Homo sapiens: one gene and its partners. The protein of the gene in region 4 purifies or fractionates together with the protein of the main gene of each other region. This does not show direct contact. Each region holds a gene or a part of one and is shown on either strand. Other genes may lie near its edges. The genes, in order: BCAM, FGFR4, IGDCC3, CLEC4A, ADGRA3, DAB2IP and ROBO1.

What was found.
Region 1: the proteins of CLEC4A (region 4) and BCAM purify together in Homo sapiens (co-immunoprecipitation; 2 studies listed by BioGRID and IntAct, with this or other methods). This does not show direct contact.
Region 2: the proteins of CLEC4A (region 4) and FGFR4 purify together in Homo sapiens (co-immunoprecipitation; 2 studies listed by BioGRID and IntAct, with this or other methods). This does not show direct contact.
Region 3: the proteins of CLEC4A (region 4) and IGDCC3 purify together in Homo sapiens (affinity purification with mass spectrometry; one large-scale study listed by BioGRID and IntAct). This does not show direct contact.
Region 5: the proteins of CLEC4A (region 4) and ADGRA3 purify together in Homo sapiens (affinity purification with mass spectrometry; one large-scale study listed by BioGRID and IntAct). This does not show direct contact.
Region 6: the proteins of CLEC4A (region 4) and DAB2IP purify together in Homo sapiens (affinity purification with mass spectrometry; one large-scale study listed by BioGRID and IntAct). This does not show direct contact.
Region 7: the proteins of CLEC4A (region 4) and ROBO1 purify together in Homo sapiens (co-immunoprecipitation; 2 studies listed by BioGRID and IntAct, with this or other methods). This does not show direct contact.

The regions. Positions count from the first base shown.
Region 1 is NC_000019.10:44,812,103-44,815,602, reverse strand, and holds part of BCAM (basal cell adhesion molecule isoform 1 precursor), read right to left. Parts: intron 3,441-3,500; coding exon 3,212-3,440; intron 3,126-3,211; coding exon 3,055-3,125; intron 2,354-3,054; coding exon 2,257-2,353; intron 2,166-2,256; coding exon 1,983-2,165; intron 1,452-1,982; coding exon 1,315-1,451; intron 1,000-1,314; coding exon 843-999; intron 1-842. UniProt on the Homo sapiens protein: Transmembrane glycoprotein that functions as both a receptor and an adhesion molecule playing a crucial role in cell adhesion, motility, migration and invasion.
Region 2 is NC_000005.10:177,089,915-177,093,414, reverse strand, and holds part of FGFR4 (fibroblast growth factor receptor 4 isoform 1 precursor), read right to left. Parts: intron 3,026-3,500; coding exon 2,762-3,025; intron 2,671-2,761; coding exon 2,590-2,670; intron 2,478-2,589; coding exon 2,311-2,477; intron 1,731-2,310; coding exon 1,607-1,730; intron 1,095-1,606; coding exon 904-1,094; intron 770-903; coding exon 631-769; intron 278-630; coding exon 84-277; coding exon of another isoform or gene 10-83; coding exon 1-9. UniProt on the Homo sapiens protein: Tyrosine-protein kinase that acts as a cell-surface receptor for fibroblast growth factors and plays a role in the regulation of cell proliferation, differentiation and migration, and in regulation of lipid metabolism, bile acid biosynthesis, glucose uptake, vitamin D metabolism and phosphate homeostasis.
Region 3 is NC_000015.10:65,368,003-65,371,502, reverse strand, and holds part of IGDCC3 (immunoglobulin superfamily DCC subclass member 3 precursor), read left to right. Parts: intron 1-3,500.
Region 4 is NC_000012.12:8,136,362-8,139,107, reverse strand, and holds the end of CLEC4A (C-type lectin domain family 4 member A), read right to left. Parts: intron 2,321-2,746; coding exon 2,205-2,320; intron 969-2,204; coding exon 821-968; 3' UTR 501-820; downstream 1-500. UniProt on the Homo sapiens protein: C-type lectin receptor that binds carbohydrates mannose and fucose but also weakly interacts with N-acetylglucosamine (GlcNAc) in a Ca(2+)-dependent manner. Involved in regulating immune reactivity.
Region 5 is NC_000004.12:22,411,567-22,415,066, reverse strand, and holds part of ADGRA3 (adhesion G protein-coupled receptor A3 precursor), read left to right. Parts: intron 1-1,252; coding exon 1,253-1,466; intron 1,467-1,676; coding exon 1,677-1,885; intron 1,886-3,500. UniProt on the Homo sapiens protein: Orphan receptor that may have a role in planar cell polarity pathway.
Region 6 is NC_000009.12:121,783,332-121,786,030, reverse strand, and holds the end of DAB2IP (disabled homolog 2-interacting protein), read right to left. Parts: 3' UTR 2,496-2,699; coding exon of another isoform or gene 2,486-2,495; 3' UTR 501-2,485; downstream 1-500. UniProt on the Homo sapiens protein: Functions as a scaffold protein implicated in the regulation of a large spectrum of both general and specialized signaling pathways.
Region 7 is NC_000003.12:78,630,999-78,634,498, forward strand, and holds part of ROBO1 (roundabout homolog 1 isoform a precursor), read right to left. Parts: intron 3,045-3,500; coding exon 2,937-3,044; intron 308-2,936; coding exon 163-307; intron 1-162. UniProt on the Homo sapiens protein: Receptor for SLIT1 and SLIT2 that mediates cellular responses to molecular guidance cues in cellular migration, including axonal navigation at the ventral midline of the neural tube and projection of axons to different regions during neuronal development.

The DNA of each region.
Region 1 (3,500 bases), on a different chromosome or scaffold from region 4:
ATCCAAGTCAGAATCTGCTTCTCAGGAAAGCAGACTGCAACACCTGCCACCTAAAATAATCCCCTCTCCTGCTCTCTCTCACTGGTGATATCACCTGTAGATACACTACTGTTACGAAAGGGCTTAGTTAGCATTTACCATCTGTCTCCCCTACTGAAATAACAGGGGTGGTCTGTCTTGTTCACAGATGTGTCCCCAGCATCTGGCGCAGGGTCTACCCCAGGAAGGGATATGTAAGAAGTGCCAAGGGAGAATACAGCCTTTCCCCAGGGCCTGGATGCGAATGAACTGAAAATCATTCTTAGAAGCCTGGGATTCAAGGGATTGGTGAGAAATAGACGGTAGGAAGGATGGGCAGTGAAGGTAGGAACCAGAGGAGCCTGGGGGGTGATGAGGAGATAGCCTTGACTGGGGAGAAGGATCAGCTAGCTAATGGTGGAACTGGCCAGGTGGACCTTGAAGGCCATGGTGAGACACCTGGGCTTCTCCCAAGGGTACTGGGGAGCCATGGCAGATTCTGAGCAGAGGAGGGTCAGGTCTGTGCTATGGAAAGAGCTCTCGACAAGATGCGGTGGCTCACTCCTGTAATCCCAGCACTTTGGGAGAGCAAGGCAGGAGGATCGCATGAGGAGTTCGAGACCAGCCTGGGCAACGTAGCCAGGTCCTGTCTCTGGGAAAAAAAAAAAAAAAAAAACAACCAAAAAAACCCCCAAGAAATGCAGAGAAAGGGTTGAAGGCAGAGTGTTTGGGATGACAGAGCAACTTCAGGGCTGTAGGGAGGAGGGCGCAGAGGCACTGATGCCAGGGCCCCTCCTGCCCGCCCGTTCACCCAGGGCTCTCACAGGCCACGCGCAGCTCCAGCGTCTTGGAGAGCTGCACGTCATCTGCCGCGTCGTAATCCTCCACTCTGCAGCCATAGGTCCCGCTCTGGCCCCGGGTCACTCCCTCCAGGGTCAAGTTCCCCTCGAGATTCACATTCAGCACTTCCTCCTGCTCATCCTGGGAGACGGGGGACGAGGAACCAGGCTCAGAAGCCACCCCGGTTCAGCGGGCTCATGCTAGGTCAGAAGCCACCAGGTTAGTGTCATGCTAAGCCAGAATCAGGGGTCAGGGGCCATCAAGTCAGGTGGCATGCTAAGTCCTGACTCTCTCAAATCAGGGGTCAGAGGTCCTTTTAGTTCGTGGGCCACCAGATCAGGTGGCTGCCTAAGCCATGGGGACTCCCAGGTCCCACATTAGAAGTTATGCAGGTTAGCAGGTCACAGAGGTCAGGGGCTGGGGGGTGGATCCCAGAGGGACCCTTGGGTGGGTCACCTGAAGGCGGAAAAGCGTATACTCCGGGCTGGGGCTGCCGTCCCCCCGGCAGAGCAGCTGGACAGTGTCACCCTCGCGTACCCAGCCTGCTGGGGTGGACGGGCTGCCCACCCAGAACTGCACGTGCTCCGTGGGATCTAAGGGAAGGGCAGGGAGATGGGAATTGTGATCAGGGGAAGGGTCAAGGCTAGAGGACAGGCGAGAGGTCAGCCCTGCATCCCAGGTGAGGGCTATGGCGGGTCAAAGGTTACGGGTCATAGGTTTCAAGCCTCAGGTTCACAATTATTCTGAGTGCCAGAGTTCAGAGGTTGAAATAAACTAAGAGTATAGGTCAAGAGTCAGAGGTCCGTATGGGCGATGGGTCAGTGTGAGACTTGGAGCCAGATGTCATGGGGGGACCCAATTCAGTGTGAGAAGGTGGAAAGCACCATTTAGTCATAAACTTCATGGGGTCCAGGGTGCTAAGTGGAGGTCGGAGGTCAGAGGTCAGGATGGGGCTTGTGCGACCAATTGAGGTCAGAGGTCAGTGGCCAGCACTAGCACATTTTTTTTTAGCATGAAGTAGGGAGGCAGAGGGTCAGAGGGGAGTGTGAAGCCCCCGGGTGGAGGGTCAGGCCTCATGAGGTGTGGAGCCTGAGGTCAGAGGTCAAAGGCCAGCACAGACTCACAGTGCAGGGTGAGGTGGAAGGTGGGGCTGTCCAGGCGGCCGTGGCGGCCCTCGGGCAGGCTGTAGTGGGCGGCGCAGTGGAAGCTGGCGTCTCGGTCATCCTTGCGGAGCCGCAGGTAGAGGGTGCTGGTGAGGGAGAGCAGGCCCGAGGCCTCCCGGACCGTGCGGCTGGTCATGTAGCCCTCTGGGAGAGATCGGGGGAGGTGGCAGTCAGCCAGGCCATAGCCCCGCCACCCACCCCAGCCCACGTCCCGCCGCGCTCCTGCGCTGCTCACCTGGGTTCATCTCTACGGGCACCTCCAGGCGCTGCCCGTTGCGATACCACGTGATCTTGGGGGCCGGGTTCCCGTTCCGGCTGTTGCAGGTGGCGATCTGAGGCAGACACGGGCATGGCCCTGGGCTTGGAGCTGGGACTCTGAAGTCGGGGCTCCTCTCTCAGGAGTTCTCCCCACTCAGACTCATGAGCCGGGCTCCTAACTCCCGACTCTCCCAGGACCCAGGAGTCCAAATTCCTAGTCCCCGACTCAGACTAAAGAGTCCAGGCCTCCAGCACCATCCTCCAGGGACCAAGGATTCTGGGTCCCCCAGCTCTCTCCTTCCTAGGACACAGGAGTCTTCCCCCTCTGCCCTTCCTTTCTTTTTTCTTTTCTTCTTCTTTTTTTTTTTTTTTTTGAGACGGAGTATTGCTCTGTGGCCCAGGCTGGAGTGCAGTGGTGTGATCTTAGCTCACTGTAGCCTCTGCCTTCTGGGTTCGAGTGATTCTCCTGTCTCAGCCTCCCGAGCAGCTGGGATTACAGTTGCACACCAACACACCCAGCTAATTTTTGTATCTTTAGTAGAGACGGGGTTTCATTATGTTGGCCAGGCTGGTCTGGAACTCCTGACCTCAGGTGATCCGCCTGCCTCTGCCTCCCAAAATGCTGGGATTACAGGCATGAGCCACCTCGCCTGGCCTTACCCCTCCTCCTTTATTACCCAGGGGTCCCCAGCCCCTCCTCCCTCAGACCCAGGAGTCCAGGGCCCTGTCCCCTCCTCCTCCAGGACCCTGGGGCCAAGGTCCACCCGAGAGGTACCTCCTGGGCAGAGTCCTCCATCACAGACAGTGTCCCTTTGTTGGGGGAGACCTCAGTGGCCTCTGGCTTTGCTGTGAAAAAGACGTTCACGTCAGGAGCCCCTGCCCTGCGCCCCTCCCTGCCTGCCTCCCTTCGGGGGATGCCCGAGGACACTTACCAAACACGTTGAGCCGCGCAGTGGCCTCAGCAGTGCCTGCCGCCCCTGCCCTCACCACGCACACGTAGTCTCGCTCGTCGCCCACCTGGGCCTCAGCCAGCACCAGGCGCCCCTGGGAGTCCAGCTGGTATGGGGGACTGCGGCCCCGGGTGTCGTGCATTGTGACCTGGAGCTCAGAGCCCTGCATCTCAGCCGAGGCTAGGCGGGGGCGAGCTCCCGAGCGGTCGGTCTGTGGGCGCGGGGCAGGCTCTCAGCTCCGGGTGTCCCAGCGCTCCTCAGTCTCTCTCTC
Region 2 (3,500 bases), on a different chromosome or scaffold from region 4:
CAGGGAGAACTGCAAAGTGGGAGACTTGGTTCTGCCTGCTGGAGTCAGGCTGTCACATGTGAGGTGGGGGATGCGCCCAGTACCTGTCGGGCCAGAGGGAAGCGGGAGAGCTTCTGCACAGTGGCGGGCGGGCGGGGGTGCCGGCCGTGGAGCGCCTGCCCTCGATACAGCCCGGCCAGCAGCAGGAGCACAGCCAAGGCCAGGGAGCCCGACGCGTACAGGATGATGTCCGTATACCTGGCCTCGGGCGCTGCTGCGGTCCATGTGGGGTCCTCCTCTGCCCTCGCACATGGACACACACAGACAGACAAACTGGTCAGTGGTGAGACTGGCCGCCCCGTGCACCCTAACTCAGTCCCTCCCAGCTCCCAACATATGTGGGGACACACACGGAGGAAGCTGTAGTTATGCCCAGTCCCAGGCACCCACACCTCAGCAGACGGTCACATGGACGGCCACGTGTGGAGAGGCACAGAGGGGCTGTCATACAGCTCAAACCCACAAATCCACACACTGCCCCCCAGGCCAGACCCCACAGGCCAACAGAGACTGACCACCCAACAGGCCACAGCCCCCACTGCTGGCCCAGAGGGGCATCTCGCAGCATCTCCTGGCCCTTCAGGTGCTCACCTGGCAGCACCGTGAGCCAGGCAGACTGGTAGGAGAGGCCGATGGAATTGCCTGCGAGGCAGGTGTACTCGCCTGCGTCCTCGGCTGACACGTTCCGCAGGTACAGGACCTCCACCTCTGAGCTATTGATGTCTGCAGTCTGGGGTGGGGGACATGCTCTGGGGTCACAGCAGGGCCTGGGGCCACACTGTGGCCAACAGGGAAGCTGGGGAGCCCCCCAACCCAAGGTGGGAGAAGAATGGGGCCCAGGCTGCAGCAGGGTGCACCTTTTACCTTTAGGACTTGCACATAGGGGAAACCGTCGGCTCCGAAGCTGCTGCCGTTGATGACGATGTGCTTCAGCCACTGGATGTGGGGCTGGGCATCGCTGTACACCTTGCACAGCAGCTCCACGTCGCTGCCCACCACGGCTGTGGTGTTGGCCGGGAGCCCGGCCTGCAGGATGGGCCGGTGCGGGGACCGCTCTGGGGACCGGGCGAGACAGTCAACCCTGACCACCGGCACCCATAGAAGCACCCTGTTTGCCTCCCTCCAGCCTTCCTCAAGTTCAAGGGAGGGACCTTTCTGCAGCTTCTTGTCTGTCTCCTGCTTACCCTGCTTAAACCTTCCCTGGCTCCCTATTGCTTCGGGTCAAGGACAACATCTCAGCCTAGCATTCAAAACCCTCCACCACCTGGCTCCCCATATAAACGCCACGCCCTACGAATATGCTGGCCTGCAAGTGCAGGGCGTTTGTTATACTCAGGCCCTCCGCTCGGGCTGCGCCCTCTGCCTGGATGTCCTTCTTGTTTTTCCTCTTGGCAGACCTCTGCTCCTCCAGCCCCACACTAACCCCTGTGCTTTCCCCTGACCCACCTGCTCACCAAGCTGCCTGACTCATCTGAGTCCATCCTGCCTGCCAGACTAGACCCCACCAAGAGGGCACAACTGAGCCCAAAATGGGTCAGGCCTCCCCTGTTCCCAGCCCCGCGCTCACCCAGCACATCTAGCAGGTAGTTATAGCGGATGCTGCCCACAGCGTTCTCTACCAGGCAGGTGTATGTGCCGCGGTCCGAGGGCACCACGCTCTCCATCACGAGACTCCAGTGCTGATGGCGCAGCTGCAGGCAGAGAGAGTGTCCGGGACCACCGGACCATGTCCACCAAGGGGGCCAGAGGACCAGGAGGCTAGATCCTCATCCTGCCCACAGGGCTCTTGTCAAGCTCTCTAGGCCCTGAGAACATCAGGCCCAGGCCAAGGACTATGGCACAAAGGAGTAGGCTCCCCAGGGCGCTTGAGCCTTGGGTTTGAGCCTTTGGAATTTTAGCTCTCCCTCTCCCTAGCTGTGCTACTTTGAGCCAACCCTTGCCTTCTCTGAGACTCAGTTGCCTCATGACAGCATGGAGCCGACCCTGCAGGGTCTCATCAAGACGATGAGATGCTAAGGCTTATGCAGACCAACCAGTCAGTGATTCTTCTCCCTTTACAAATGGAGTTGCTGAGGCTGAGAGGTTAAGTCACTTGCCAGAGAGTAGCAGAAGGGGAACCAGAGCTGCCCAGGTCCACAGTCCAGGGCTCCTTCCGGGGCCCCGCAATCGCTTCACTCATTCGATTGATTTATAGGTATGCTTGTAGGTATGAGGGGACTGATGAAGGAATGAAAATGGGGGAGCAGACGGTCTTGGAACCCAGAGACTCACCCGAATGCCTCCAATGCGGTTCTCCCCATGAAAGGCCTGTCCATCCTTAAGCCAGCGGATGGTGGGCGTGGGGTTGCCTGCAGCTGGACAGCGGAACTTGACGGTGTTCCCCGCAGGTACTGCATGCAGTTTCTTCTCCATGCGCTGGGGGTGTGTCCAGTAGGGTGCTGGAGGGCAGGGGAAGGCCCCTAGAATGACCGTGTGTTCCCACACAGGCCTCCTCTTCTCAGTGATCAGATGAGCAGCAGCGGGGACACAAGTCCTTGGAGACCTACTGACCTTGCTGGGGGTAACTGTGCCTATTCGAGGGGTCCCTATGGGACTTGGGGTCCTCATCATCGTTGCTGGAGGTCAAGGAGTCTACATCAGGGACAGAGGGAAGCATCTAAGGTCCAAGAGGGGCAGGTCTGTCTCCCCAGGCATCCCTTCACTCCCTGCTAGAGTCTCTTACCACCTGTAATCAAGGTGAGATTCTGCAGGACGATCATGGAGCCTCGTGCCAGGCAGAGGTAGCGGCCAGCATCCTCAGGTAGGAAGCTGGCAATCTCTAGGCGGCCCCTCCAGCCCCGTACACGGCCAGCAGGTGCCAGGCGACTGCCCTCCTTGTACCAGTGGCCACCACGCTCAGCCCGCCCACAGCACAGACGCACAGGCTGCCCAAGGGCTACTGTCAGCTCCTGCTCTTGCTGCTCCAGGCTGGGAGCCAGGCAGGGCTCTGTGGGCAGAGGGCAGAGGTCAGCAGACCCCGCAGCCCCATCTGAGGCAGCCTCCTGTGTACAAAGAACACACCGCACATGCAGGGCACAAGCACTTTGCAACGCATGCTGAAGGAGCCACCACTCCTTGACACCCACACAGCCACATGCTGCGGATGCCACACCCAGGGCAAATGCCACACTCTTGGGGCATGTCACACACACAGCATTTAGTGCACACGACAGTGGCCAAGACACACACACACACACACACGCATACACACACACACATACGGACACACACACACACAAGGCACATGCTGTTGGTGCCACATACAGGGTCATGCTGCACCGGGGCATATCACCCTCATAATGCTTATACCACACATGCTGCCTGGACCTCCTAGGTCACACACCCAGTGCACAGAACACACACACACACGCACACACACCCAGGTAAGGAGCTCACCACCAGCTCTGCAGCCCAGCTTAGGG
Region 3 (3,500 bases), on a different chromosome or scaffold from region 4:
TCTGAGTAGCAAGGGGCTAGCAGAGACCACACCCATGTCATAACCTCCGCTGTGGGGATTTTCAGGCAGCATAGTGAAGCCTTTGGAACAAGGGCTTCAGGGCCAGACTTCCATGGGTCTGAACCCCAGCTCTGCCACTCAATGATCAGTGCCCTTGGCAGGAGTTACTTAGCCCTCTTGAGAGTCTGTACCCTCATCTGAAAAAATGTGCACCATTCCATCCATCTGTCAGGGCTATTGGAGGAGTAAATGAGGTGATGGGTCTAAAGCACCTGGCACAGGGCTTGGCATGTAGGAAATGCTAAGTATTATTGTTGGTGCTCAGTATTGCCCACTAATTTAGGATGAGGTCCCAGGTGTCTCAATCCTGGCTGGGTTCTCCAAGAGCCAGGATTGCCCTCACTCCCAGCCTGGGGCCATCTTGCCTGGGCAGGCCCAACAGTGGTTTAAATGTGGGTTGTGGTGGCAAACAGACCTGGGCTTGGTGGGCTTGGGCCTTGGCCCCACCACCTGCTAGCTGTGAGATCTTGGCCAAGTCACTTCACCTCTCTGAGCCTTGGCTTCTTCATCTTTAAAATGGGGGAATGTGATGGCTCATGCCTGTAAATCCCAGCACTTTGAGAGGCTGAGGCAGGAGGATCGCTTGAAGTCAGGAGTTTGAGAGCAACCTGGGCAACAGAGCAAGACCCTGTCTCTACTAAATAAATAAATAAATAACATGGGGGAGGAATAATATAAAATAATAAAAAATACCAAGGAGAAATATTGTGAAGATTACCTATGATAATGTGCAGGAAGAGCTTAGCACAGGGCACAAAGGCAGCATTCCTTAACTATTATTAAGGTACTAATTTTATATATATATATATATATATATATATACACATACATATATATACACATACATATATATACATACATATATATACATACATATATATATACACACACACATATATATATAAATATATATATATATATATATATTTTTTTTTTGAGACCAAGTCTCGCTCTATCACCCAGTGCAGTGGTGCAATCTCAGCTCACTGCAACATCTGCCTCCCGGGTTCAAGCAATTCTCCTTCTTCAACCTCCTGAGTAGCTGGGATTACAGGTTCCTGCCACCATGCCAGGCTAATTTTTATATTTTTAGTAGAGACAGGGTTTCATCATGTTGGCCAGGCTGGTCTCTAACTCCTGACCTCAAGTGATCCACACACTTCCTCCGAAAGTGCTGGGATTACAGGTGTGAGCCACCGTGTCCAGCCAGGTACTAATAATATTAACTATTATCATTTTGAGGAGCTAACAGAGGTGAAAACATGTTAAATTATGAGCTCCTTTAGTTGTGGTATCATTCCCGGAAAGGTCCCTGGTGACTCCAGACTCCTAGAAAGAGGCAGTGGGACATGGGGAGAGGAGAGAAAGTCCAGTTCTAGTCCCCTGCTCTCTCCGCCTCAATAAGTCACCTAGCCTCTCAGGCCCTCAGTTCCTACTTCTGAAGTCTGAATCATTTTAACTTGTCAGAGGGAAGGCAGTTTCACCAGCTATTCTAGAGTCCCTTTTCAGCAAAAAGGCTCATGGTGTGTGGCTCTGGGGGCAGGGTCTGGGTGGAGGTCTGTGGAACCAGGTTGGAGTGGGGGTTAGGAGAACTGCGGGCAGGAGCTGCTGGGGAGTACAGCCTGGTATTTAGGGTGCCCTGTGTAGGGAGGTGGGTCATGGAGGGAGGTAGTTCCTGGCACAGTGGCTGGTAACCCTGGAGGCCTCTATCACCTGGAGGTTAGTTGCTCAGGCCTGGTGTGTGGAATGCAAGTTCTTCTCTCCTTCTTGAAGGAATGAAGTTCTTCTCCCGCTTAACTGAGGGAGGCCTGAGGAAGTCTCCCCCGCAGCTCCTCAAACACACACATCTGCCTGTCCATTAGGACAGGAAGCTGCTGTCCCCAGCGATGAGTGAGTGCCCATACCTAGGCCTACCCTCATGTCAGGGCCTCACCTGTACCCAGCCTCAGCTCATAGGTAGGTGCAAATGGATGGGGTTCAGACACTTTAACCTGCCAGTCAGCACTGCACAAACTGACCCTTTCTGACACCGCTGAGAAGTTGTGTGGTAGAAAAGCCCTTGTCTGGACACCAGGGATCCTGTGTGGCTGTGGACAAGTTGCCCACCCTCTCTGGGCCTTGCTTTTCTGATTATAAGGTGAGGGGGTTGGACTGAGGCTCACCTCTGCTCTGGGGTACGAAGGCTTCCTTCCATCCATCTTCAAGACGTGCCTGCCTCCCCTGGGCCTCCTCCAAGTCTATTTCTGCCTGGTTCTTCCCATACCTGATCCCTCCCCAAAGACCATCCTGCTTACAGTCATATCTTCCTCCCCTTCCTAAGGCAGGGAGCATTTGTGGTCTGTGGCATTCACGCTAAACCCTCTTGGTGATGGCTGCTTGCATTGTTAAGTAACTGTTTTGTGGCTGGATATTCCATCTGTCTCCTCAACTAGATTTTAAGCTCCTAAAGGGCTTCTTTCTTTTGTATTTCTCATGTCCCCTGCCTGTGGAGCCTGGTAAAAACTAAATGAACATGTGGCCTTCTGGGACAAAGCTGTCTCTCTGTCTCTCCTCTGTTTCTCTCTCTGCTTCTCTTTTGCTCCCCACCCCACCCCCCTTGTAATTGATAGCACAGCTCAAAGGAACAGAAGCTTGTGAACGGGGAGGATGGGCAGGGGAATATAATGCACGCGGGGCAGGATCCTGGGGTGCTGCTGCCGCGTGTTTATCTCTAGAGGAACTGAGATTCTCTCTTCCTCACCAGATGGGGTGTGAATCAGAGACTAAATTGCCTGGTACCCCCTCCATGCAGGGGTCTTGGGTCTCCTGCCTTGGGCTTTACTCTCTAGCTAGACAAGGCCTATGTCCCCAGGCTCATTGGCCCCCAACTGTAGGGGGAGGGCCCCCTTACTCTGTGTGCAGGGCCTCCACTCACCCCCACCCGCAGAACTTGAGTGTGGAAGTCGAACGCTTCTGGTTCCCACACCTTGGCTCCACTGTCACAGGCAGCCAGCTGGCCCCTTAAACACAATGTGCAAATCTTCTCTGTTCCTGTTCCTGGCATTGTCAGCGGCCAGGCGCCTTGGCTGGGAATGTGGGCCGGTGAATAGGAGAGGCATTTGCAGCCTGCAAATGAAACAGGCCCCCAGCCCCCCTTAACCCTCTGTCCCCTCCCCACCCCCAGGGAGAAAGGACTTTTTCACTCCTGGCCTTCTTGTATTGCCTTTCCCTCTCCCCTCTTCTCTCCAGAGTGCCTGCAGGCTGGTGTGTGTGTGTGTGTGTGTGTGTGTGTGTGTGTGTGTGAGTGAAAGAGAGAGAGTTTTCCACAGTAGCTTGAAGGCTGTTCTCCATAGCTTTCAATAAACGTAGAATGCAACAGAAGAGTACCCAGGATGAAAAACCAAACAGCTCACTGCTGTCTTTGTTTAAACTGGACTGAGTGATTCCACCAAAAATGTCTG
Region 4 (2,746 bases):
AGTCAATCCATAGAAACAGAGGGTAAAATGATGGTTGTGAGGGAATGGAGGGCAGTGGAGAAAATCAGGCAATGTTGGTCAAAGGGTACAAATTTTCAGTTCTAAGATGACGAAGTTCTAGAGATCTAATGTGCTGGATGGTGACTATAGTTAATAATGATGCATTGCACACTTGAAATTTTTTGGGGAGTAGATCTTGCTTTGTGTTTGTTGATACCAATGGACAGAATGGAGTAGATCTTAAACGTTCTCACTACACACAAGATTGTTAACTATGTAAGATAATGGGTGTGGGTTAAGTAACTTGATTACGGTAATCATTTTACAATATATATGTATGTCAAATCACCACAGTGTAAACCTTAAATATATACAATTTTATTTGTCAGTGTATATATATATATTATAATATATATATAAAATATAATATATATATATGTCAGTATATATATACAATTATATATCAGTATAGTAGGGATGAAGAGAAAACCAGACAGGAGGAGACACCACATCATATAATTTTATTGGTAAATAATTCTTTAGCAACCAGATAAAAATTAAGAGAGACTCATGTTCTCTCCATGTGTGCACAATGGGGGCCTCCAGTACAGGCTCTGGCACATGAAAAAATGCTCAATAAATGCTCACTTTATGAAAAAGTGAATCAGTCAATGTACAGACCAATTCTCTCATAAGTAGAATAGTTGACAGACCACCTAAATTCTATGGACCTCCCTTACACATGAATAAGAAGAGCTTATTATCTATCCCTACAATGACAGATACCAATCCAACCACCTGTTCATGGAGAATGTTCAGTTCATAAGTGGATCTTCATCATCTCACAAACTGACCTTTGAGGACCAAGACAATTAACATCATTCCAGCCCCATCTTTTGGGTGATTTACGAAAATTTAGCACAACGCAGCGCTCATTGGGATCACTGGGCTCACGTGGATGCCAGAATCTGAAAGCGACAAAAAGGATGAGGGCATTTCTTCAAACAGAGCTTTGAAAAGGGTTAGAGACAGGGGTGAGGAGCGAGGGATGAATTTCATGGAACATAGGGTCAGATATGCCCAAATCCACCTTTCTGCTACTCATCATGCAGCTTCTCCTCCATCTGCATTTCCGGCATTTCCTTTGAAAACTGTGCCTATGTCACTCAATGTTCTCTACCTTACTGCTTTGAATATCCTCACCATAGATTTTCTAGAGGTTCTCTTCTATTTGTCCATCCTTATGTCCTGTTCCTATGGGTCCATCAACCTATAGGGTGTCCTTGTATGATGAAAAGATTTTACCCTGGTCCCACTTATCAATAGAGTTTTTTCCTTTTTTTAATGCACTGTTTTTAAAGTCTAGAGAACTAGTAAAATCTTTTGAATCTTCTACTTATCCTTGTTATTGGACAAGTAATTTAACTTCCCTGATTCTCAGTTTTTCTATCTAAAAAATAAGGACTAGAGTAATATCACTATTTATTTCATACAGTGGATATGAAGATCGAAGGTGGTAATCCAGTAAAGTATGTATTTTATGTAATTTATGTAATATATGTAAAGTATGTAATTTATGCAATTAAAGAATTACATAAATATGAGATATAAGATTATCAGAATTTAGCATTTTTGCTTCATAAGAAGCATTACATCTTCAGCCTGACTGGGTGTGGTGGCACATACTTGTCATCCTAGCAACTCAGAAGACTTGGGTGGGAGGATCAGTTGAGCCCAGGAATTCAAGGCTGCAGTGAGCCATGATTGCACCACTGCACTCCAGCCTGGTTGACAGAGTAAGACCCTGTCTCAAAAAAGAAAAAAAAAGCATTATTAAATCTTAATAATTGGTTATGATCTTAATCAACATGGGTTTTCACTATGTAGAGACAGGTAAATATACGGGTTAAAAGCACAGTAAGATCCACCTGATTTGAGAACAATTGTTGACACCACTGGGTGACCTTAGCTGAATTATCTACACTCTCCAAGCTCAATTTCCTCATATCTACAGTGGGAAAAATAACAATGTGTGCCTCATAGGGTTCTTGCGCAGATTAAATGAGATAATGAAATTATTTAACCTAGTACCCAAGAGCTAAAAGAAGAGTGAGCTATTTTACTTTTATAGCTGATAGCTAGAATACCCTAAGCTCTCTGCATGATCCAGGACCCAAGATTCTTTTATCTCATTCTATACTCACGTGGAACTTTCATTGTATGGTGTCTGATCAACCCATTGCCAATGTCGCTGACCTTCTGGATCTGAGAGCCCCACAAAATAAGCAGATTCTTCTTGCAGATTCTGGAAGATGAAATCCTGAGGGGGGAAAAGAAGGAGTCACAGCCTTTACAGTATTCAGCTTAAACTGAATTCTTAATACCTTAGAGAAACAAGAAGAAAAGGAGAGGATCCAGCAACAGCTGCATTAGAGCTCTACGTAGGAATGGGGATCTCTGGCTGAGCAGGGCAGAATCAAAGACATCGCTTGTAAGCATGATGTTCAGTACATACGGAAGGAATTTTTTTTTTTTTTTTTTTTTGAGATGGAGTCTCACTTTCTGTCCCAGGCTGGAGTGCAGTGGTGCAATCTTGGCTCACTGCACCTCTGCCTCCCAGGCTTAAGCGATTCTCATGCCTCAGCCTCCCCAGTAGCTGGGACTACAGGTGTGTGCCACCATGCCTGGCTAATTTTTGTATTTTTAGTAGAGGCTGGGTTTCACCATTTTGGCCAAGCTGGTCTTG
Region 5 (3,500 bases), on a different chromosome or scaffold from region 4:
TATGACTAATGTGTGCAGAGTGTTGTGTGAGTCCAGAAGAGGAAGCAGCTAATCTGAAGATGCAATATACTGAGGAGATGCAATTAACTGTCCAAAAAAGCCCTGTTTCAAGGACTCTGTATAAAGTCTTCCCCCTGGCTGCCAACGTTTTTCATTCTAATCCACTTTCCGTTACACCAATTCAAAAGTTTGTGAGATGAAAGAATAGTGGAGCATTTCAGGTAGAGATGCTGGTCTGTGCAGTGAGCATGGTGGCATAAAAAGAATATAGGAGAACTTAAATTGATAACTCAGTGTAGCTGTGTTTTAGGTTGTGCTATAGGAGCATTCAGGGGATACATCTGAGCAATAGATTTTCATCAAATTATATGGTGAACTTAGGATTTGGGCTTAGTATTAAACATTGCAAAACCAAGGTGTTATTTAAACTGGAATAACATGATTCGATTTGTTTCTTAAGGGGAAATTCCGGTGAATATGGAATTAGAAGAAGAGAGGTTAGAAGCCAAGAAAAAGATTGTACAATAAATTCTTCAACTATGGAATGTTTTTAGATGGTTAATTGTTCACTTCTTTGGTATATATATATTTTTTACTGAATGCTGAATAATTTGTTATTTAAAAATCCTCAATAAAGAAATCTGAAAAAATTCAGTGATCAGTCAGCATTTTCAGTTGTTCCTATGTGTTATTATTTTTTTTTTCTAAATGTGTTTCCTAGTCTCAAGGAAATTTCTGCTAAGTGTACTGAATCTAAACCTCTATTATGTTTGTATAATTTCATTCTTTTGTTGTGTGGAGGTTTGAATTCATCATAAATCACCTTAAAGTTCCATAAGCCCAAATTAATTATACTCATATTTATGATATGCTACATTTGTGCTTCTTTATCATATTTTATCATTGTAAAATTGATACAGCCTGATCATTGAGATCCTTGATCTGTTTAATGCTATCTACTTCAACATATAATATCATGGGAAAATTAACTTTGTTAATTTGAAACACTTTTCTTGTTTACTTATTTAACTCTTTAAAGTTTGCATTTCTGTTTTATACTTCTTTTAATCTATGTTATGTGGTGTTGACATTTCGCTTGACTGATGATTTTTTTAACTGTTAAATTTTGTATATCCAATTTAAAAAATGAAGTCAACCTAATTATACCACTTTTGTAACTATCTGACATATTTTTTTCTGGTTTCTATGTACTAATGTAGTGAGCTTTTTTTATGTATATATATTTTTTCAGAATACTATTGTGGAGGCTTCTATTCAGCTTCCTCCTTCCCTTTTCTCACCAAAGCAAAAAAGAGAACTCAGACCAACTGATGACTCTCTTTACAAGCTTCAACTCATTGCATTCCGCAATGGAAAGCTTTTTCCAGCCACTGGAAATTCAACAAATTTGGCTGATGATGGAAAACGACGTACTGTGGTTACCCCTGTGATTCTCACCAAAATAGGTTTGTATGTGGCATATGTTATCCTGTAGTCAGTGGACAATAAGGCCTTGTAGTTGACTGTTCCTAAAAATGCTTATTTTAGTGTTTTCTCGTTTTAATGAGTCACTAGTGAAGAAAGATCTTGCAGAGTACCCATTACTGTAGAAGTTGACATTTATAATTGGTTATGAAGTTTGTTTCAGAAATATTTTTATTTCCCATTTTCTCCAGATGGTGTGAATGTAGATACCCACCACATCCCTGTTAATGTGACACTGCGTCGAATTGCACATGGAGCAGATGCTGTTGCAGCCCGGTGGGATTTCGATTTGCTGAACGGACAAGGAGGCTGGAAGTCAGATGGGTGCCATATACTCTATTCAGATGAAAATATCACTACGATTCAGTGCTACTCCCTTAGTAACTATGCAGTTTTAATGGTATGGCAGTTGTTAACTTTATGCATAAACACTATTCTACATTTTTGCTATGCATAATTAAGCTCAAATGAAGTGTTTTTTTGTTTTTTGTTTTTTTTTTTTTTTTACTTTTAACATAATTTGCTCCCTTTGATTATATGAGATGATATGTGTTCTAATTTTGATTTTAAAGGGAAATTAAGTTACTACCAAGTGAAATGTATGGGATTGAGTTTGGTATATAGGAATTTTAAATCAACTTTATAAGTCAATCAGTTCAGTTAGTCTTTGACCTTAAAACTTGGAGAGACTGTTGATGCAGATTCCCTCTGCCCAGAAAGAGTGATTTCATTTGCCGAAGGATACACAGTGAGTAGTGAAAGAACATTTTCCTACTTTGCAATCTAGCGCTGTTTCCCACTACATGTCGTAATTGTTAGACTCTATTTAAATTTAGAATTAATCATGATAATTTCATTTTTGTCATTGCAAGTGACAGTATTGACACAAAGAATGTCTTTTCAGTTTTAATGCCAGTCTAGTGTTGTTTTCTGTTATTTGCCGTTGTTAACACTAATTACAGGTTGAGTCTTATCTCTTATCTGAGATGCTTGGGACTAAAAATGTTTTGGATTTTGGATTTTTTCAGATTTTGGAATATTTGCATTATCACTTACCAGTTCATCATTCCTAATCCAAAAATCTGAAATCCTCCAAGGAGCATTTTCTTTGAAAAGTTTTAGATTTTGGAGCATTTTGGATTTAGGATTCTTGGGTTAGGGATACTCAACCTGTAATTTTTGGGGGGTAAAATAACAGTTATTAATGTACAGGAGCAAGTGTTTTTATTAATGAGGTCTTTAAGTGAATCTGACGTCTGAGCAGATAATTATGAAATAAACCATGCTAGTTCTTATTTTATATTGTAATTATTATAAATACTGACATCAAGGAGTATATTTAGAGTACGGTGGAAGGAATTACTGACGAGTGTGAAAGACATTTCCCAGAAATGGTTTGAGGTTACTCTGGGTGTGAGGAACTTCTATGTTATTTCTGATTCCAGCTGTAAATCTGTTTTCTAGAAAATGTTTTATCAAAGTGCTAAATACCTTGAAACATGATATATTTTACATTTCATGAATTTTTCTTTTCTTAAAAAAATAGCATTTAGCACTAGAAATGATCTTGAAGTAAACCTGAATTATAAATAATTTTCTTTGACTCTTGTATGTTTTTTTTTGTTGTTGTTGTTGTTTCAATTCAACTTATACCTTACCTGGTACACAGGTCAAGCAAGCAGAAAGGTGAATAGATTATTTATCAGAGTAAAGGGATTATCTTTTCATTGACATAATTGAGCATTTTATACAAGTGCAAGCAACATATTTAAACATGTATGTTTATAGACTCGGCTATATTTGTATATTTGTATATATAAAGGACCTTTATTCAATTGGGATTAACTTTAGTGTTGACAGTTTATGATTCTGATTCTCTTTGTAAATGGAAGATGTCTTGATTTCTGTAAGCATGAGTCTGGTTTCTATAAGTTCACATTTTATTATTGTGTAGTCAACTTATATTTATTTTTTGTTTTTTTGAGACAGAGTCTCACTCAGGTTGCCCAGGCTGG
Region 6 (2,699 bases), on a different chromosome or scaffold from region 4:
TCTGACTTTCAAGGTGTTGAAAGCTTGGAAATGTTTAGTCCAGCCCTGCCATGACTTGCTGGGACCTGGGCCCACCTCTTCTCCCTGGTCTCTTCCCTCCCAGAGCCAGATTTCAGTGGATGAGAAAGCGCTTAATGCAGGGCCTGGCAAGAGCCAGTGTGTGCTGCAGTGAAGGTGCTGGGACCACCCTGTCTCCCAGGAGGTGGTGGGACCAGCAGACTTTTCTTCCAAACGTATCAGAGCCAGAGAAGAGCCTTTAAGAGGACAACTGCTCTACTCCCTGGTGCAGAGACCCCTCAACCCAGAGGAGGAGGGGGCAATCCCAGATCTCCCAGTGAGCCAAGCTGGCCAGACCACCACCACTGGCTTTAGGGGTATCCCCTGCCCACGAATGCCACCAGAGTGAACCAGATGCTGGGGTCCCCTTGGTAAAGGACAGTGTCCGCTCCGGACTCAGGGTCATCCCTTAACACACAGCTGAATGGAGACACGAGTCGGGCTTAAAATAGCTAAATAAATCTTTAATATTTCTAATTGCAAATGTACAGAAATTGCACAGCCACACAGAGTCTTAGAACACCAACAGCTTCCTCTGTACATTATTACATAGTTAAAAGTCGCAGCTGGAGGGAGGAGCTCCAGCCCAAACTCCAACGTTTGCATTTTTTCCTTTTCACATACTTACAAAAGAGGGGAGCTGGGACGCGGTGTGGGAGCTGGGGGGCTTTGTGGCTGAGTGTGTAGAAAAGAGAGAGGCTGTTTCCCTGGACAGTCTGGCTCCCGCAGTCGTGCGGGGCGCAGGGGGAGGTGTACCTGGGGCAGATGCTCTGGGGGACCGGGGCGTGTGGAGCTGTAGCCTCGGTCCTCCACCCCCACTTTCTGGGCAGTCGGAAAGAGTCCTCACTGACAGGAGGTTTGGCAGTTTCCATCACCCAGAACATGGAAGTTAAGCAAAAAAGTCAGTCAGGCCTCTGTGCTAGCAGGGAGGGCGTGGCTTTCTCCAGCAGAGGCTGAGTCTCGGTGACCAGGGGGCCCCGGGGCTGTTCTTCCCCAGCAGGGACTGTCCTTCCCTCCAGGGCCTCTGGCAACCCCAGCCCTGGCTGCAGGCAGGGCCCAGCTCCCGGGAACTCAGGTTCTCTGTGGCCTGGGCAGGAGCCCCCCGTTGACTGGCCCAGTGAAGGCACCCCAGTGGCCACTACTCAGACAGCAGCTGCAAAGCCAACACACAAATGCCACAGGCAGGGAAGACACCCCCCGCAGACACCAAGCCTTTTCCTCCTGCCCAATACTGTTCTCTAGATTCAGAAATAAAATAAAACCCTTGGGAGAGCAGCAGTCCCGGCCAGCCCTCGGCAGCACCAGGACCAAAGGATATGTACAACCATTAGGTGAGATAGTTACATTACAGTCAAACACCAAGAACATTTACAAAATCGGCAGACTTGCAATTAAGATAAAAATCTGTGAAGAGTCTGTACACTTTTACAGTTTTTGCACTAGGTAAATAAGGCTCTCGGCCTGAGAGCTCACCCACCCTGCAAGGGCAGCTGGCACCGGCCACAGCGGGTAGCCTCCGAGCCCGCCTGTCCAGGCCCCGGGAGCCTCCCTGTATTGCTAGGGGGGCTCTGTCCGAGGTCACTCTACGAGGCAGCGGTGGGAGGGGGCTGGGGAGAGAAGAGCAGGGCTCACTGGGCAATGGGAGGATGAGACTGGAGCCAGGCCCTGCCTGTGTGGCCACCCTGGTCTCAGGCACGAAGGCGCATGGGTGGGGACAAGACAGAAGAGTGAGACAGGAAGGGGTGGGGGCAGGGCCTCTGCTTCCACCTCCCATCTTCCTGTGGTCTGTGATCCCTGGTGGCCCAGCCCTTCCTCCACCAGCATCTGTCTCTAGCCTAACTGAATTGTAGGTTACATCTAAAAGCCCCTTCCCAGAGCAGCCACTGTCACCTGTCCCCGAGCTCAGGGTGGACGCAGTATGGCTCTGGGCCACCCCTCCAGCACATCCACCCTTCAGGTGGGGCCTCTGTGGCACATTCCAGCTGCAGGGGCAGAGGGGTGATTCCTGCAGCTCGCCCTGCCCTGGCTCTGCTGGCAAAGGCCCCACTCCCACCCTTCTTACCCAGGGCCTTTGCTCAGAATCTGCAGGGGCTGGGAACAGACAGGGGCCGAGAGAGACCCAAGCTCCTGCTCATCTGTCTTGAAAGTGGGGGAGGGGCAGATAAGCTACAGAACAGCCTAGAGCTGAGGAAAACCGGCCCCAGCTGTGGGGTGCGCCCCTCCCCTGTATGCAGCGCCTGGGTCCTTGGCCGGGGGCCGGGAAGGGTGAGGAGGAGGCCGGCCACACACACGGGGCAGGTGCAGGCTGCTGCTGTCTTGGAGAGGGAGCAAGTCTAACATCCTCCAGGGCCGCTATTTCCCATGCAGTGCGCACGCTCAACTTAAAAGGCCCCTGTGTTCCAGCAAGCGAGCAAGCGGGCTTTTGTTTCTAATGCATACTGTGAAAGGAAAAAAAATCACAGTTATCCACCTTCTCAGGGCCTGCAGGCGTTAGAATCTTTTTTTAAACCATCACTCAGAGGAAGGATCACCTTTTCTTTCAGGGTGAGCACCAGGTGGCACTCCCTACAGGACCACTGTGCCCTGGGTGTGCTGGGCCCCAGGAGAAGGCAGATACAGTGCTCAGAGCCATCTGGCCAGAT
Region 7 (3,500 bases), on a different chromosome or scaffold from region 4:
GAGAATTTTTACTTCCTGCTGACCAGCACTATTTTATTTAAAGGCAACTGTTTGTGGACCTTAGGAATCAGTCTTCTCTTGACCACCTAGTATAATAATTGCTGAAAATGGGCTGAAACAATCATATTACACTGTTTACATCTGTTTGGATGCTCCTCTTACCTTTCATCTACAGAAATGTTGTACTCTTCGCTATTGCTGTGTGGAGGAGGATGTGCTGGGGGAGGAGGAAGCAGGTCTGCCCAGTTCATGCCACCCTGTTTTGGTACCTTGGGTGTTCTTGCCCCTTTCTTGTGCCCCTGACTCCCTAGAAAGGAAATAAAATAGAAGCCATTGATCTCTGGCCTTTAAACTTTTTCCATTAGTCACAAGTTAATTATTTTTTGTAAATATGATTTTATAATTCATTTATATATACAGAGATAAACATGCTTTTTCATTAATTTTAAACAGAACTTTGTACAAGAGAACATGCAAGGTACTGCCATGAATAACTGCAAAATAAATAGCAAAAAAGCAATAAAACCATGAATGAATGTTTCAAGTCATATCATTAATAGTGATCTTCCTGCAGCAATTAATTGCATTATGGATTATCATCTCAAACAAATGAGCTGTAGATATATTTTCTCGAGTGCCTTTCTATTATTTAATTGCTGGAACTTAAAATACAATATGATACAGATACGATCTATTAGAGTTCCACTGTTGCATTAAATCACTGAATATATATAATTTGTACTTGTCCATTGAAATGTTTTAGGCACAATGAAATTACTAGTTCCCTTCAGAAAGGCAAGTACAGATGAAATAATAGCTGGAATAACTGATAGAACTAATGACAAAAGAAGCAGAAAAATGATTTTTAAAAGGGACAGAAGTGTTTTCAGCCACTGTTTCTGTACAATGATGGCTTATGGTAAAATGATGTTGCTTGAACATTCTTAGTAGTTTGACATAGCCCAATCATTCAAGTGCTCCAGTGTTCTCATTTTAGATCTGGCATATTTTTTAAACACAAGAGGCTATATATTTGAGAGCATTTATTTTAACAAAAACTTTAGGTCAACAAATATTTTGGGACAAAATATCCCCTTTCCAATATGTTATATTTTTGATTCATATGTGAATTATAGACAATGAGTCTATGATTATTTTTCTCATAAGTTCCCTTTATATCAGTGCATTATGTTGGCCTTAGTTTTTTAACCCTATCCAATCCTTCTCCAAGTCATGTAATATATGAATCAGGTCTGATCATATTCAATGAGCCTTGATTTTTTTGTCACTTGGGAATTTTCAGTCAAATGGCAGTGTTTGTTAAGCCAGATGTTCTTGTACTGGTAGGTTACCACACTAAGCGTGGGCTAGGGACAGGCTGTTATTAATAAACTACGATTATCAGTCCTATGTGTATGTCTCTCACTTCTCTCGTCCACCACTCCGGTGTCCAGCATTGGGATAACTGTGCATGTGTTGTAGACTAGACATTAACCCACATCTTCCTCTGGATTTCCTGATATACATCTACTGTAGCAACTCCATCAGTCCGGAGAGGCCTATCACAGATCTCTCCTATACCTTATTTACTTGCTTTGTTCTCTTCCCTAATTACCATCACGCATCTTTACATCTTTTTACCATATATTCACAGAATATCAAATGATATATAGCAGTAGAACACCCAGATCTAGGTATCTAAGCTGAGGGATGCTGAAGGTCAATTAAAGATTAATAACCTAGAATCATTGTTTATTTTCCCATTAAGATATGGTTTTCTCTATGTGACTAAAAATTCAAAGATCAAATGGCATAAGATAATCAAATATTAAAATATTTCATATGATTTTCTTAAAAGTAGATCCTTGAAATATTTCTCTTAATTCAGGATTGACTTAGCTTCAAAAAAGAAGTCATTTAATAAGATGTTAATTGTTAAAACAAACAAATAACATATAATAGAATCAGAGTAAATCTAAAAGGTAAAGGGCCATTTCTAAGCTCCCTTAATTCCAACAGAAACACAGGCTAGACAATGCCAGACCAGCGTGTTAGTTAAGGGAAAACTGTAAAATGCAAATGCCATATTCATTACAGAAGAAGGGTGGAGACTCTTGGCTAAAAGCCCCTAAGAACAACTTTAATCCAGTTGCTGGGAAGTGGCATTTCTACCCTCTCCTGGAGAAACATTGCTAGAGTCAAGATCAGTCGGTTTTGTTCTCATTGTGGTGTGATGTGCCACATGTTAGTTCTAATAACGAACTGCCTTTAATTAGAAAAACAGGACTTAAGTACCCAGCAAGCTCCCATCTGCAGCCCCTATCAGGAAAACAGCTGGCAAACAGCTGTAACAGCATGAAGACCACAGGGAAGAGGCCTCAATGTGGCTTTGGGAGGCACTTACAGACTGAGGTTGGGAGGTTGCTTTACGAGGCTTCAGAGCAAGAACTGAGGGATCGTAGAGGGATGATAAACTGAGACAGGCTCCTATTGTACCTGAATCTCATGTTATTGTCTCTCCGGCTTTTGATTCTGCTCAAGTGTCCTCAAACATTATGTGCTTTTATAGGCTCGTTTCAAATGGCAACATATTTAGCAGGTTAACTCTGTGCAACATTTTTAGTTATATTTTGGCCAACGGGGAAAAAGTTTCAACTGCCTTTAAAGATTAACCAGACATGTTTCTTCTGGCTTTGCTAAAGCTCATTAACAAGGAAGAAAATAGGACACTTAGTCTTTTTGCCAAATAGAACATAAAATGATTTAGTGAGTGGAAAGTCCCTCAAATTGCAGAGACAAGACACATGCCTGAGACTCAAATTACATACAGTGATTTAGACATGTCACCTACATACGTCAGTCCATTAGCACTCAATTTGTAATCTTGGAAAGTACCAGCTTTTTAAAGGAGAAGTTCTTTGGTTCATCTTACTTACCAGATGTACTACTGCCCCGGTCTGAGCTGTTGTAGGATCCTCCTGTGTTCTGGTCGTATGATTGGTTGTATGGGATAGTTGGAGGAACTGTGTCATTTGCTCGATAATCTAGACATATCAGATGAAAAAACAATAAACATTTATTTTCTCTTCATGAGCGATTTCACATCTCTGCTTTCTCTATATTTCTGAGTAACTAAAGAAACAAATTGGACCATTTATTTGCCTTTTTTCTCTTCTATTGTTGTATTCAGATTGTCAGGATATAAAAAGGCTTATACTCCAAATATATATAAACTATAAATAACTTTAATAATATAATATCAATATGATTTTAATAAGAATCACAAAAATGTCTGCAAATCATAAAAAATAAATCACAATACATAAAAATAAAACTGAAACCTGTCAGCAAGGTTATATCTAATAAAAAATATATCTATGATTAAAAAAAACAAATATCTTAATTTGCCCCAGAAATGCTTCTGCTTACTTAGGCAAAGGTGAAAATCCAAATGATAAGCTTGCCACTGGAATGTAGTCAGTAATAATCTGTCGTCTAGT